Linked DNA regions of Homo sapiens. The protein of the gene in region 1 interacts with the protein of each later gene in a pairwise test. Each region holds a gene or a part of one and is shown in the gene's direction. Other genes may lie near its edges. The genes, in order: APIP, TSC22D4 and NUDT18.

Evidence for each region.
Region 2: the proteins of APIP (region 1) and TSC22D4 interact in binary tests that used the Homo sapiens proteins (3 or more experiments, as listed by UniProt).
Region 3: the proteins of APIP (region 1) and NUDT18 interact in binary tests that used the Homo sapiens proteins (3 or more experiments, as listed by UniProt).

The regions. Positions count from the first base shown.
Region 1 is NC_000011.10:34,895,708-34,899,452, reverse strand, and holds part of APIP (methylthioribulose-1-phosphate dehydratase), read left to right. Parts: intron 1-2,597; coding exon of another isoform or gene 2,598-2,692; intron 2,693-3,745. UniProt on the Homo sapiens protein: Catalyzes the dehydration of methylthioribulose-1-phosphate (MTRu-1-P) into 2,3-diketo-5-methylthiopentyl-1-phosphate (DK-MTP-1-P).
Region 2 is NC_000007.14:100,477,068-100,480,812, reverse strand, and holds the start of TSC22D4 (TSC22 domain family protein 4), read left to right. Parts: upstream 1-1,598; 5' UTR 1,599-2,019; intron 2,020-2,505; 5' UTR 2,506-2,774; coding exon 2,775-3,536; intron 3,537-3,745. Other genes in the region: TSC22D4-C7ORF61 (uncharacterized protein LOC122198330), read left to right, coding at 2,775-3,536.
Region 3 is NC_000008.11:22,107,374-22,111,118, reverse strand, and holds the start of NUDT18 (8-oxo-dGDP phosphatase NUDT18), read left to right. Parts: upstream 1-1,818; coding exon 1,819-1,980; intron 1,981-2,772; coding exon 2,773-2,986; intron 2,987-3,223; coding exon 3,224-3,745. UniProt on the Homo sapiens protein: Mediates the hydrolysis of oxidized nucleoside diphosphate derivatives. Hydrolyzes 8-oxo-7,8-dihydroguanine (8-oxo-Gua)-containing deoxyribo- and ribonucleoside diphosphates to the monophosphates. Hydrolyzes 8-oxo-dGDP and 8-oxo-GDP with the same efficiencies.

The DNA.
Region 1 (3,745 bases):
TACCTTAATCAGAGACAGAATAGGTGCCTTAAAGGAACGTAGGAACCAAACGGCCATTTTCCTGCTGATGGGACAATATTGAGACTAAAATTTGGCCACAGAAGACATTTAACTCCTATCTGTTGAAAGCAGAATTTTCCTGTTCACAGAAGAGGCTTAGAGCCCGATTTCTAGTGGTGCAAAAGGAAGCTGCAGTGTTACCATAAAAGAAAAAAAAATGTGCCTCATGAAGATTTCTGTTTCCACTAGGTGGCACTGTTGGTTTAGAAATACTATTTGCTCGAGGCCGGGCTCAGTGGCTCACGCCTGTAATCCCAGCACTTTGGGAGGCCGAGGCAGGTGGATCACTAGGTCAGGAGATTGAGACCATCCTGGCTTGTAATCCCAGCACTTTGGGAGGCCGAGGCAGGTGGATCACTAGGTCAGGAGATTGAGACCATCCTGGCTAACACGGTGAAACCCCCATCTCTACTAAAAATACAAACAATTAGCTGGGCGCGGTGGCGGGCGCCTGTAGTCCCAGCTACTCGGGAGGCTGAGGCAGGAGAATGGCGTGAACCCGGGAGGCGGAGCTTGCAGTGAGCCGAGATCACGTCACTGCACTCCAGCCTGGGCGAAAGAGCGAGACTCTGCCTCAAAAAAAAAAAAAAAAAAAAAAAAAAAAAACCAAAGAAAGAAATACTATGTGCTCGCCAGAGTAGTAGTAGAGAGACCTGGAAATGCCATGCACTCTCCAGACCAAGGGCAGAGAGAGAGACGCTCACTCTGGGTGGGAGCGGGGAGGAGGGGGAGGAAAGGAACCCTCTGTTCCTAGAAGATTGCAACAGCATTCCTGAGCTAAACTCCTGGTTACTAAATTCCCGCACATCAGAGAGAGAGAGAGACTGTGGATAGAAAAAGAAGGAGAGTTTTGTGACAGGATAGCTGGGGATTCTCTGCCAAAACCCGAAATGGGCTGTTGGAGGCTGGGTCCGACCCAGAGGCCTTTGAATAACGCCAGGGTGTGTCCTGGCCAGAACTTTCCCAGCCTCACGCGATGGTAAGGTTTCCCCGTGAAAGGAAACTGATTCGAAACACGGCCGACACTCCCAATGACCCGTGGGTATTGAGGGGGGTTCTCCGTGTTCTCCACCAGCAAGCCTAACATCTGAGGCCTTAGAATGGCAGTCGTGATAAGCATATTTTTAACCAGCTGAAGGATGCCTGTTGATTGATTTGATTTGATTTTAAAATAGAGGCCAAGAGCCCCTCAGAATGATAGAACAGATTTTAAGCTTGCTCCTATACTCACCATCCGATGAATGTTGTACCTCGGATTCTTGGCCAACACACCAAAATGATATGGCTCTGATAACTGAAGGAACACCAGGGCCCTTTGTCTCGCACCAATTTAGATAAATAACATGGACACACGTGGAGTGGTTTTAAGGAATGGAGAGTTTAATAAGAAAGAAGAAAGAAGCTCCCCTGTACAGAGATGGAGGGTGGCTCCAAGCAGAGAGAGAAAACCCCAAGTGGAGCGGGAAAACAGTCGGTTCTATTAGGAGGCTGGAGGAGGTGGTGTCTGATTTTCATAGGGCCCAGGGGATTGGTTTGACCAGGTATGTCACTCAGGTAGCCCACGAAAAAAACTAGCCTTCCCACCCTAGCCTTTTAATATTCAAATACAGGCCACCATGATGTTCTGCACACGTGAAGATATCTGGGGTGGCCATGATGCTTGACACACATGGTGACAAGAAGAGGGTGGGAATCACCATATTGGATGGACCCGGTTTCTAATGGCTGGCATTTGCACATCAAAGCTTGCTATCCTGGCCCTTTAAGCTGCTTTTCTGCTAGAAAAGAAATGTTTTTGGAGCTGCATTATTAAAAGAAAAAAAAAAACCTTACTAAGCTGCATTATTAAAAGAAAACAAAACCTTACCAACCTTACCCTCTCTGTCTAAAATAATTTCTTAATAACTCCTATAATAGTTTTGCTATTTTAATTCAAGAATTTTCAGCTCTTTAAAATGAAAAGGAAACTGACATTGTGTCAGATTTCATGCTGACTGCATTATGTCCATTGTATCTCATTTTAATCCTCACAGCATTTTCATTGTGTGGATAAGTAAACTGACACCCAAAGTCATGTAGGCAATAAATCCAGTAATGTGGATTAGACTTTTAAGTCAGCTAACTCCAAGTCTAAGTTGAATCAGAACTTTTAGAAATTTCTAGATTCTCAAGTTTTTAATTTTATATTTTGAAGTTTACTCCATCAGTCATCATTTGTAATACTTAAAATGAGTAAGTAGAACATTAGCACTAAATCTGGGGAAAAACACCACAATTTCAAGTATTCAGCTAAGTAGCTGAGAATTCAACCTGTTAAATAATGATCGCTTTTTGAACTCAAAGATGTTTTTCCCCCTTTACCCAGTGACCGGATCTGTAAAGGCATGCTTCCTTGTTGTGATTTTCTCCACAGTGAATCTCATTTTGTTCACTGTTACCTTGAAGGTAGACCTCAGTGGGGTCTCCAGTTTATGTGGGGATTTTTCATTAGGTTTCCTGGAATTGATCAGGCCCTGGGTTTTGTCTCATGCTTCTAGTGGCTTACATGGCTATCAAAATTGAAGTTCAAGGTCACCAGAGTTTTGCAATACCTTCAGGAACATTCTGGCTTTGGCGCTCACTTCTCTCCCAGGTAGTCTCATTTTCCTTTGTTGTTGTTGTTGTTGCTTTATTATGCTTTTAAGTTCTGGGATACGTGTGCAGAACTTACAGGTTTGTTACTTAGGTATACACGTGCCATGGTGGTTTGCTGCACCCCTCAACTCATCATCTATGTTAGGTATTTCTCCTAATGCTATCCCTTCTCTAGCCCCCCATCTGCTGACAGGCCCTGGTGTGTGATTTTCCCCTCCCTGTGTCCATGTGTTCTCATTGTTCAAATCCCATTTATGAGTGAGAACATGCAGTGTTTGGTTTTCTGCTCCTGTGTTAGTTTGCTGAGAATGATGGTTTCCAGCTTCATCCATGTCCCTGCAAAGGACGTGAGCTCATCCTTTTTTATGGCTGCATAGTATTCCATTGTGTATATGTGTCACATTTTCTTTATCCATTCTATCATTGATGGGTATTTGGGTTGGTTCCAAGTCTTTGCTATTGTAAATAGTGCTGCAGTAAACATACGTATGTGTCTTTATAGTAGAATCCCAGTAATGGGATTGCTAGGTCAAATGGTATTTCTGGTTCTAGATCCTTGAGGAATCGCCACACTGTCTTCCACAATGGTTGAACTAATTTACACTCCCACCAACAGTGTAAAAGCATTCCTATTTCTCCACATCCTCTCCAGCATCTATTGTTTCCTGACTTTTTAATGATCGCCATTCCAACTGGTGTGAGAGTCTCATTCTCATTTTTTATGGCCCCTGTGAAACTTTACTTTCTTGCCAGCTCAACAACTTATTTTGAAATATTTTAAAAAATAATTTATTCAGCATTTGTACTTATTTTTAAGATAAGGATTGTATATTATACTGCCCAAAATGGAATTCATTGTATTTCTTCTTCATTTATTTATTTATTTATTTATTTTTGTTTTCATTAATTTAAACCACAAAAAAGCAGGAGAAAATGGTGTGGGCTCTTTTTTCTAAAGAAGTAATCATTGGACTTATAAAAATAACACTTGATATTTATCTGTCTGTATACACACACATACACTCATAAACACGTATCTTCATAAAATGGG
Region 2 (3,745 bases), on another chromosome or scaffold:
AGCCAGGCGTAGTAGTGTGTGTCTGTGGTCCCAGCTACTTGGGAGGCTGAGGCAGGAGCATGGCTTGAGCCCAGGAGTTCCAGGCTGTGGTGAGCTATGATCGCACCACTGCACTCCATCCTGGGCAACAGAGAGAGAGAGAGACCCTGTCTCTAAAAAAAAAGGCGGGGGCAGGTTGGGGGAAAGGGGAATAGTATAACATCTAGGATCTGATTTCAAATAGTCCAGCAAACTACAGCTGGCCCCCACACAATGTCATTTCATTGAATGTCATTTCATTATAACATTGATGATTTTCTAAAAATTGATTTTGGGCTGGGACCACCATCTGTGTGGAGTTTGCATGGTCTCCCCATGTCTGCATGGCATGTTTGAAAATTTTCATAATAATCCACTTTTTTTTTTTTTTTGAGACATGGTCTCACTCTGTTGCCCAGGCTGGAGTGCAGTGGCACAATCTTGGCTCACTGCATCCTCAACCTCCTGGGCTCAAGAGATCCTCCTGCCTCACAGCCTCCTGAGTAGCTGGGACTACAGGTATACATCACCACACTCAGTTTTTTTTTTTTTTTAAGATGGAGTCTCACTCTGTCACCAGGCTGGAGTGCAGTGGCGTGATCTCGACTCACTGCAACCTCCGCCTCCCAGGTTGAAGTGATTCTCCTGCCTCAGCCTCCCGAGTAGCTGGGACTACAGGTGCCCGCCACCACACCTGGCTAATTTTTGTATTTTAAGTAGAGACTTGGTTTCACCATGTTGGCCAGGATGGTCTTAATCTCTTGACCTCGTGATCCGCCCGCCTCGGCCTCCCAAAGTGCTAATTTTTTAAATTTTTTGTAGAGATGGGGATCTCGTTATATTGCCCAGGCTGGTCACGAACTCCTGGGCTCAAGCGATCCTCCCACCTTTGAGTAGCTGGAATTATAGGTGCACATCACCATGCCCAGCTATTTTTTTTTATTTTTTGTAGAGATGGGGTCTTGCTATTATATTGTCCAAACTGGTCTCAAGCGATCCTCCTTCCTCGACCTCCCAAAGTGCGGAGATTACAGGCATGAGCCACCACCGGGATCCGGCAATAATCCACTTTTAAAAATAAGGAATGGGGGGAATAATGCAGTTGCTGTGAAAACCAAAGGAGAATGACAGTAACAGCCACAGCTGCCCCACAGCAGGGACTGGGAACTTCTGGGTGGGCATGCAGCACACCTCCCGGCCTGTGCCTTCCGTCTCTTCTGTGTGTCTCTAGGCCAATGGCAGCAATTGACTACAAGTAAGGGAATCCCTCGCCTCCCTGCAAGCTCCTCCCCTTTCTCCCCGAGCCCCGCCCCCTGCAGCCCCTCCCTGCAAGAGTGGGGCTAGGGCCCGGCAGGTGTGGGGTTAAGGGAGTCTGTTTGGGGCCCCCAGGAGCAGCAGCCTAAGCAGTGGCTGCAGCAACTGCAACAGCAGCGGCTGTGGCAGGCCTGGCCCCGGGCCAGCTGGCGGGAAGCCCCAGGAGGGAGGGAGGGAGGAGGAAGGGGAGGAAGAGGGGAAGGAGGAGGAGGAGGAGGAGAGGAGCAGTCAGCAGGCCCGAGGAGGCAGGACTTCCTGGTGTGGGGGTTGTCAACAGCCCAGAAAGAGAAAGACGGAGAGGCAGAGACCCAGGGGAGCCGAGGAGCGGAGACACGGACCCAGCAGGGTCACGCGGGAGGAGACTCGGGACACCCACTCGCTGGCTGCCACCGGGAGCAGAGGGGGGCTCGGCCGCCCCCTCCCACATCAGTCTCCAGACCCTTGGGGCTTCAGAGGCCGCTCCTAGGCTCCTCGGAGGAGGCGCGGGTTTCTTCTTTTCCGGAGAGCAAACTTTCCTCGGAGATGCCTGGCAGGATGAGCCGCGGCCCCCGGAGAGGACGGGACAGCCTCTGATCGCCGCCTGCGTGCCCCGCCACTGCCCATGGCCAGGAGGCCCCAGGGAACGGACAGCCCGACCTCTTAGGCGCCGGGACCCTCAGGCTCAGATCAGTGGCCGAGGCCCCAGAGGTAGGGTTCAGGGCTGGGTGGGGCGCTGGGGGGTAGCCGGGCAGGGCCTGCCCCAGAGATGTGGGAGCTGGGGTGAGGGTGGGGGCTCGAGGCCCAGGAGAGGTCTCTCTGAGTGGCCGGGCCAGGCTGGGGAGCTGCTTCAGCCTGGTTCTCCCAGGCCCTGGAGTCCGAGCTCTTGGGACAATACGGGCCCCCTGAGTCAGAATCCCAGGCGAGAAATGCCCAACTCTGGGACTCATCTGCCTCTTTCTACTCTGAGTGCCTTCTTGGATCCAGTCCCCTCTGCCCTGGTCTCTGTCATCTCTTGCCTGTCTCTGGGTCTCTGACGGTTTCCCCTTCCCCCACTCTGCTCCCCGGAGAGGAAGCCCCGGAGGTGGCCTGCCCACTGGTTTCACACACACACACACACACACACACACACACACACACACACACACACACACTCTCTCTCTCTCTCTCTCTCTCTCTCTCCCCCTCTTTTTCCAGTTTGCAAACTCAGCTCTGGAGTTCAGCAGCAACAGCAGCAGGAAAAACCTGCCCCTGCTCCCCCCTCCCGCCACCTCCCCTCTCCTCTTCTCCCCTCACCCAGCAGGCACCCCCGGTTCCCGCCAGGCCCTCCTGCCATGTCGGACCCAGACGTCCCCAGGGGCTCGGATGTCCCCGCCATGTGGCCCCCTTGTTCCAGGGGTGCCTGAGCCCCTTCAAGGAGCCCCAACCCACCCCCAACCTTGGCCCAGCCCTGAGCCCCAGGGACCATGAGCGGGGGCAAGAAGAAGAGTAGTTTCCAAATCACCAGCGTCACCACGGACTATGAGGGCCCTGGGAGCCCAGGGGCTTCGGATCCCCCTACCCCACAGCCCCCAACCGGGCCCCCGCCCCGCCTGCCCAATGGGGAGCCCAGCCCCGATCCGGGGGGCAAGGGCACCCCCCGGAATGGCTCCCCACCACCTGGGGCCCCTTCCTCCCGTTTCCGGGTGGTGAAGCTGCCCCACGGCCTGGGAGAGCCTTATCGCCGCGGTCGCTGGACGTGTGTGGATGTTTATGAGCGAGACCTGGAGCCCCACAGCTTCGGCGGACTCCTGGAGGGAATTCGAGGGGCCTCAGGGGGCGCCGGGGGCAGATCTTTGGATTCCAGGTTGGAGCTGGCCAGCCTCGGCCTGGGCGCCCCCACCCCACCGTCAGGCCTGTCTCAGGGCCCCACCTCCTGGCTCCGTCCACCCCCCACCTCTCCTGGACCTCAGGCCCGCTCCTTCACTGGGGGACTGGGCCAGCTGGTGGTGCCCAGCAAAGCCAAGGCAGAGAAACCCCCACTGTCGGCCTCCTCACCCCAGCAGCGCCCCCCAGAGCCTGAGACCGGTGAGAGTGCGGGCACATCCCGGGCTGCCACGCCCCTGCCCTCTCTGAGGGTGGAAGCGGAGGCTGGGGGCTCAGGGGCCAGGACCCCTCCACTGTCCCGGAGGAAAGCTGTAGACATGCGGCTGCGGATGGAGTTGGGTGCTCCAGAAGAGATGGGGCAGGTAAGACCTGGGTTCTAGGGCTGGCCCATCAGCCCTGGCCTAACCTCTATCTTGAGCCTCCTTCCTCCTCCTCCCCCCCCTCTCCTCCTCCTTCTCCATCACTTTATAAGATCAGATAGCCCTCTTCTCTGTGCCTGCCAGGTCACTCTGAAGCCCCTTCCTCCTACTTCATTTTCTGTCTCAGCCTCCTTCCTGTTTTTCTGCACCCT
Region 3 (3,745 bases), on another chromosome or scaffold:
AGTTCCTGAGTCCAGTTCTAAGGCAGCTCTACAGGCACATTTCGCCAGGCATGGTGGCTCATGCCTGCAACCACAGCACTTTGGAAGGCCAAGGTGGGAGGATCACTGAGGCCAGGAGTTCAAGACCAGCCTGGGCAATACAGCAAGACCCTCGTTTCTACAAAGAATTAAAAATTAAAAATTTAGCCAGGCGTGGTGGTGCACACCTGCAGTCCCAGCTACTCAGGAGTCTGAGGCAGGAGGATGACTCGAATCCAAGAGATCAAGTCTGCAGTAGGAGCTGTGATCACGCCACTGCACCTCCAATCTGAGCAACACAGTGAAACCCTGACTCTAGGGGATAACAAAAGTCACATTTCATGAGGGCAGGCCTTGCGTGTGGTAGCAAGAGCTATGGTGGAGAGGGACCACCCCTGAGGGTTGGTGGGCTGCCTGGGGACGGTGCCCAGTGCTGGACAATCCACACAGCTCCTCTCCAATTGTTGTGGCTTCCCAACACCCCTGTAAAAGAAGAATTGCTATGATCCTGCTCTACAAATAAGAAAATTGAGGCCCACAGCTCACCCAGGAGCACAGAGCAAGCCAGTCAGCAGTGGCTGGCCATCTGGCTGCAGGTCCTGAGCTTTGTCCACACCACCAAGCCACAGTCTCCCTAGCAGGGAGGCGCACAAAACTATCAGAGGCAGAGGAAAGGGGTGGCCTCTGCCAGGTGAGGAGCCAGACGGCCTGCTTCGCAGATCCCTTCCAGCTGGCTTTGCCTTCCAGTGCTGAGGTGGGGTGAAGGAGGAAAGGCCGAGCTGGGAGAGGAGCAGGCGCTCGCCACAACCACCCCCACCCTGCTCTCCACGCGCCAGGTCCTGCACGCTGGGTGGGAGGGTGACGACAAGGATGGAGGAGCAGGGCCCCACCCCCGCCCTCCCAGGGCGCACCATCTGCAGCAGAGAGGGCCTTGAGCTGCGTGGGAAATGCGGTAGGCAGAGGGACACTGATGAGGGTGGGCCGGCTGACGGCAGCCTTCTCTCAGCCCCGGACCCCTCCCGCCATCCCCAGCCCTGCCCCCTCCCTCCTTCCAGCGCCTGTCACTCTTCCTGCCCAAACCAAGCATTTAGCACTTAGCCTCGAACCCTCAGCTGACTCCTCATCTAGGACTCCGTCCATCTCTCCAACTATTGCAGAATCTCCTTCAAGGCAGGGGTTTATGTCCCCCACCCCACGGGCCATGTGACATTTATAACTCTTTGGTGGAATGAGAAGAAAGGTATTTGGGATATGATCAACTCCGGCAATGCCATTGTGTGTTTACGGCAACAGCGGGACAGTGGTTCCAGGGGGCGGCCCCGGGCCTCCGTGACGTCACCGGATTGTCGCGTCACCGTCGCCTACCCCGGCGGCGCAACGCGCCCTGCAGGAAAGATGACGTCACCGTCGGAGCTCCTGCAGACCAGTGCGCGCTCGGGGAGTTGGCGAGCGGGTGGCGGCTGGGAGACGTCCCGAGCGCACGGGACTGACAGGCGGCAGAAGCCGGGCGGGGTCCGCTGGGCTCCGGACCCGTGCCCCCCCAGTTCCAGGGCGGCCCCGGGCGGCCCCGCCCCCTCGGTGAATGCCGCGGGCCGGCCAATCCGGGCAGGCCGCGGCGCCGCGCAGCCTATCAGCGGCCAGAGCTCGCGTGCGCTTCCGCGTTCGCGTGCGCTTCCGCGTTCTCGTGAGCTCCCGGCCCGCTGCCGCAGGGACTGGGAGCGGGCTCCGCAGCGCACTCTAGCCCGCGGCTCGGCTCAGTCGGTCTGCGAGGATCCGGCCCGCCGCCCCCCGGGGGACCCGATGGCCTCGGAGGGCCTGGCGGGGGCGCTGGCTTCCGTGCTGGCTGGCCAGGGGTCCAGCGTGCACAGCTGCGACTCGGCGCCGGCCGGGGAGCCGCCGGCGCCCGTGCGGCTGCGGAAGAACGTGTGCTACGTGGTGCTGGCCGTGTTCCTCAGCGAGCAGGTGAGCGGCCGCCCCCGGGCCCGCCGGGCCTCGGGAGCGCGCAGCCAGCCCAGGTGGGGACAGAAGACCCAACGGCCACAGCCAGCGCTGCCGCGTGCGTGGCGCTTCCCAGTTTTGCAAAGCACTCCCACTCCCACTCGCATCTGTGTCCTGCGTTCGTCCCGATATGCAGAAGAGGAAACTGAGGCCCGGGGCCTGTTTGTCTCATCCGACTAGGCCTCATTCCTTCCCTTCCCCAGAGTCTAGCGGAGTGCCCAGGGCCCCTCAGATAGCAGTGGCTCAATCCCGGCTTACCTTCAGGCCTTTGGTGCTGATGCCTGTAGTGGGCGATGTAATGACAACTAGACGGGGCCAGGGCCATAGGGCGGGGTTGTACAGAGCGGAGGTGGGGGTCGTGTTTCAAGCCAGACCCCAGTGTGAGGACCCATCACAGTTTGTAAACCACGCCGTTGGAGGCGAGAGATACACAGTGGCAGGTACAGACGCAAATCAATCCAAGACAGACAGACACATGGTGACCCTCACTCTGGGGCCTCATCTCCAGCCCCTGAAGCGGCTTCCAGGAATCTCAGCCCTTCCTGAAATGGAAGTCTTCCTAAATCCAGAGAGAGACGAATTGCAGAGAGGAGAGGGCTGCAGCCCCCAGCGACACGAGGGCAGGTCTCCTGGAGCGCTAGCTGGGTTGAGAGTGTCCACCCAGAGGGGAGTCTTGGGCGACTGTGTTTGAGATGCCCCCTGGTCCCGGGGCGAGGGAAGGCTGTGGCAGGAAGTGAGGATCCTCTCTCCTCTCAGGATGAGGTGCTACTGATCCAGGAGGCCAAGAGGGAGTGCCGGGGGTCGTGGTACCTGCCTGCGGGGAGAATGGAGCCAGGGGAGACCATCGTGGAGGCGCTGCAGCGGGAGGTGAAGGAGGAGGCGGGGCTGCACTGTGAGCCCGAGACACTGCTGTCCGTGGAGGAGCGGGGCCCCTCCTGGGTCCGCTTCGTGTTCCTCGCTCGCCCCACAGGTATGGCCCACCTGGAGGCAGTGTGAACAGGGCCAGTTGACACCTTTCCCCCAGCTCCTCGGTGAGGTGAGCCCCTCTACAGCCAGTCCTGTTATGGCTGGCACAGCCTGGCATGGGCAGATTCCAGCCTTTGGGCTGGGGGCCTCTCTCCTGGGTCAGGGATGTCTGTTGACTCTGCCAGAGCTGCACTTCTCTCCACACAGACCCTCCCTGCCCCATCCCCCACATCTCCCCCAGGTGGAATTCTCAAGACTTCCAAGGAGGCCGATGCGGAGTCCCTGCAGGCTGCCTGGTACCCACGGACCTCCCTGCCCACTCCGCTGCGAGCCCATGACATCCTGCACCTGGTTGAACTAGCCGCCCAGTATCGCCAGCAAGCCAGGCACCCTCTCATTCTGCCCCAAGAGCTACCCTGTGATCTGGTCTGCCAGCGGCTCGTGGCTACCTTTACCAGCGCCCAGACAGTGTGGGTGTTAGTGGGCACAGTGGGGATGCCTCACTTGCCTGTCACTGCCTGTGGCCTCGACCCTATGGAGCAGAGGGGTGGCATGAAGATGGCCGTCCTGCGGCTGCTGCAGGAGTGTCTGACCCTGCACCACTTGGTGGTGGAGATCAAGGGGTTGCTTGGACTGCAGCACCTGGGCCGAGATCACAGTGATGGCATCTGTTTGAATGTGCTGGTGACCGTGGCTTTTCGGAGCCCAGGGATCCAGGATGAACCCCCAAAAGTTCGGGGTGAGAACTTCTCTTGGTGGAAGG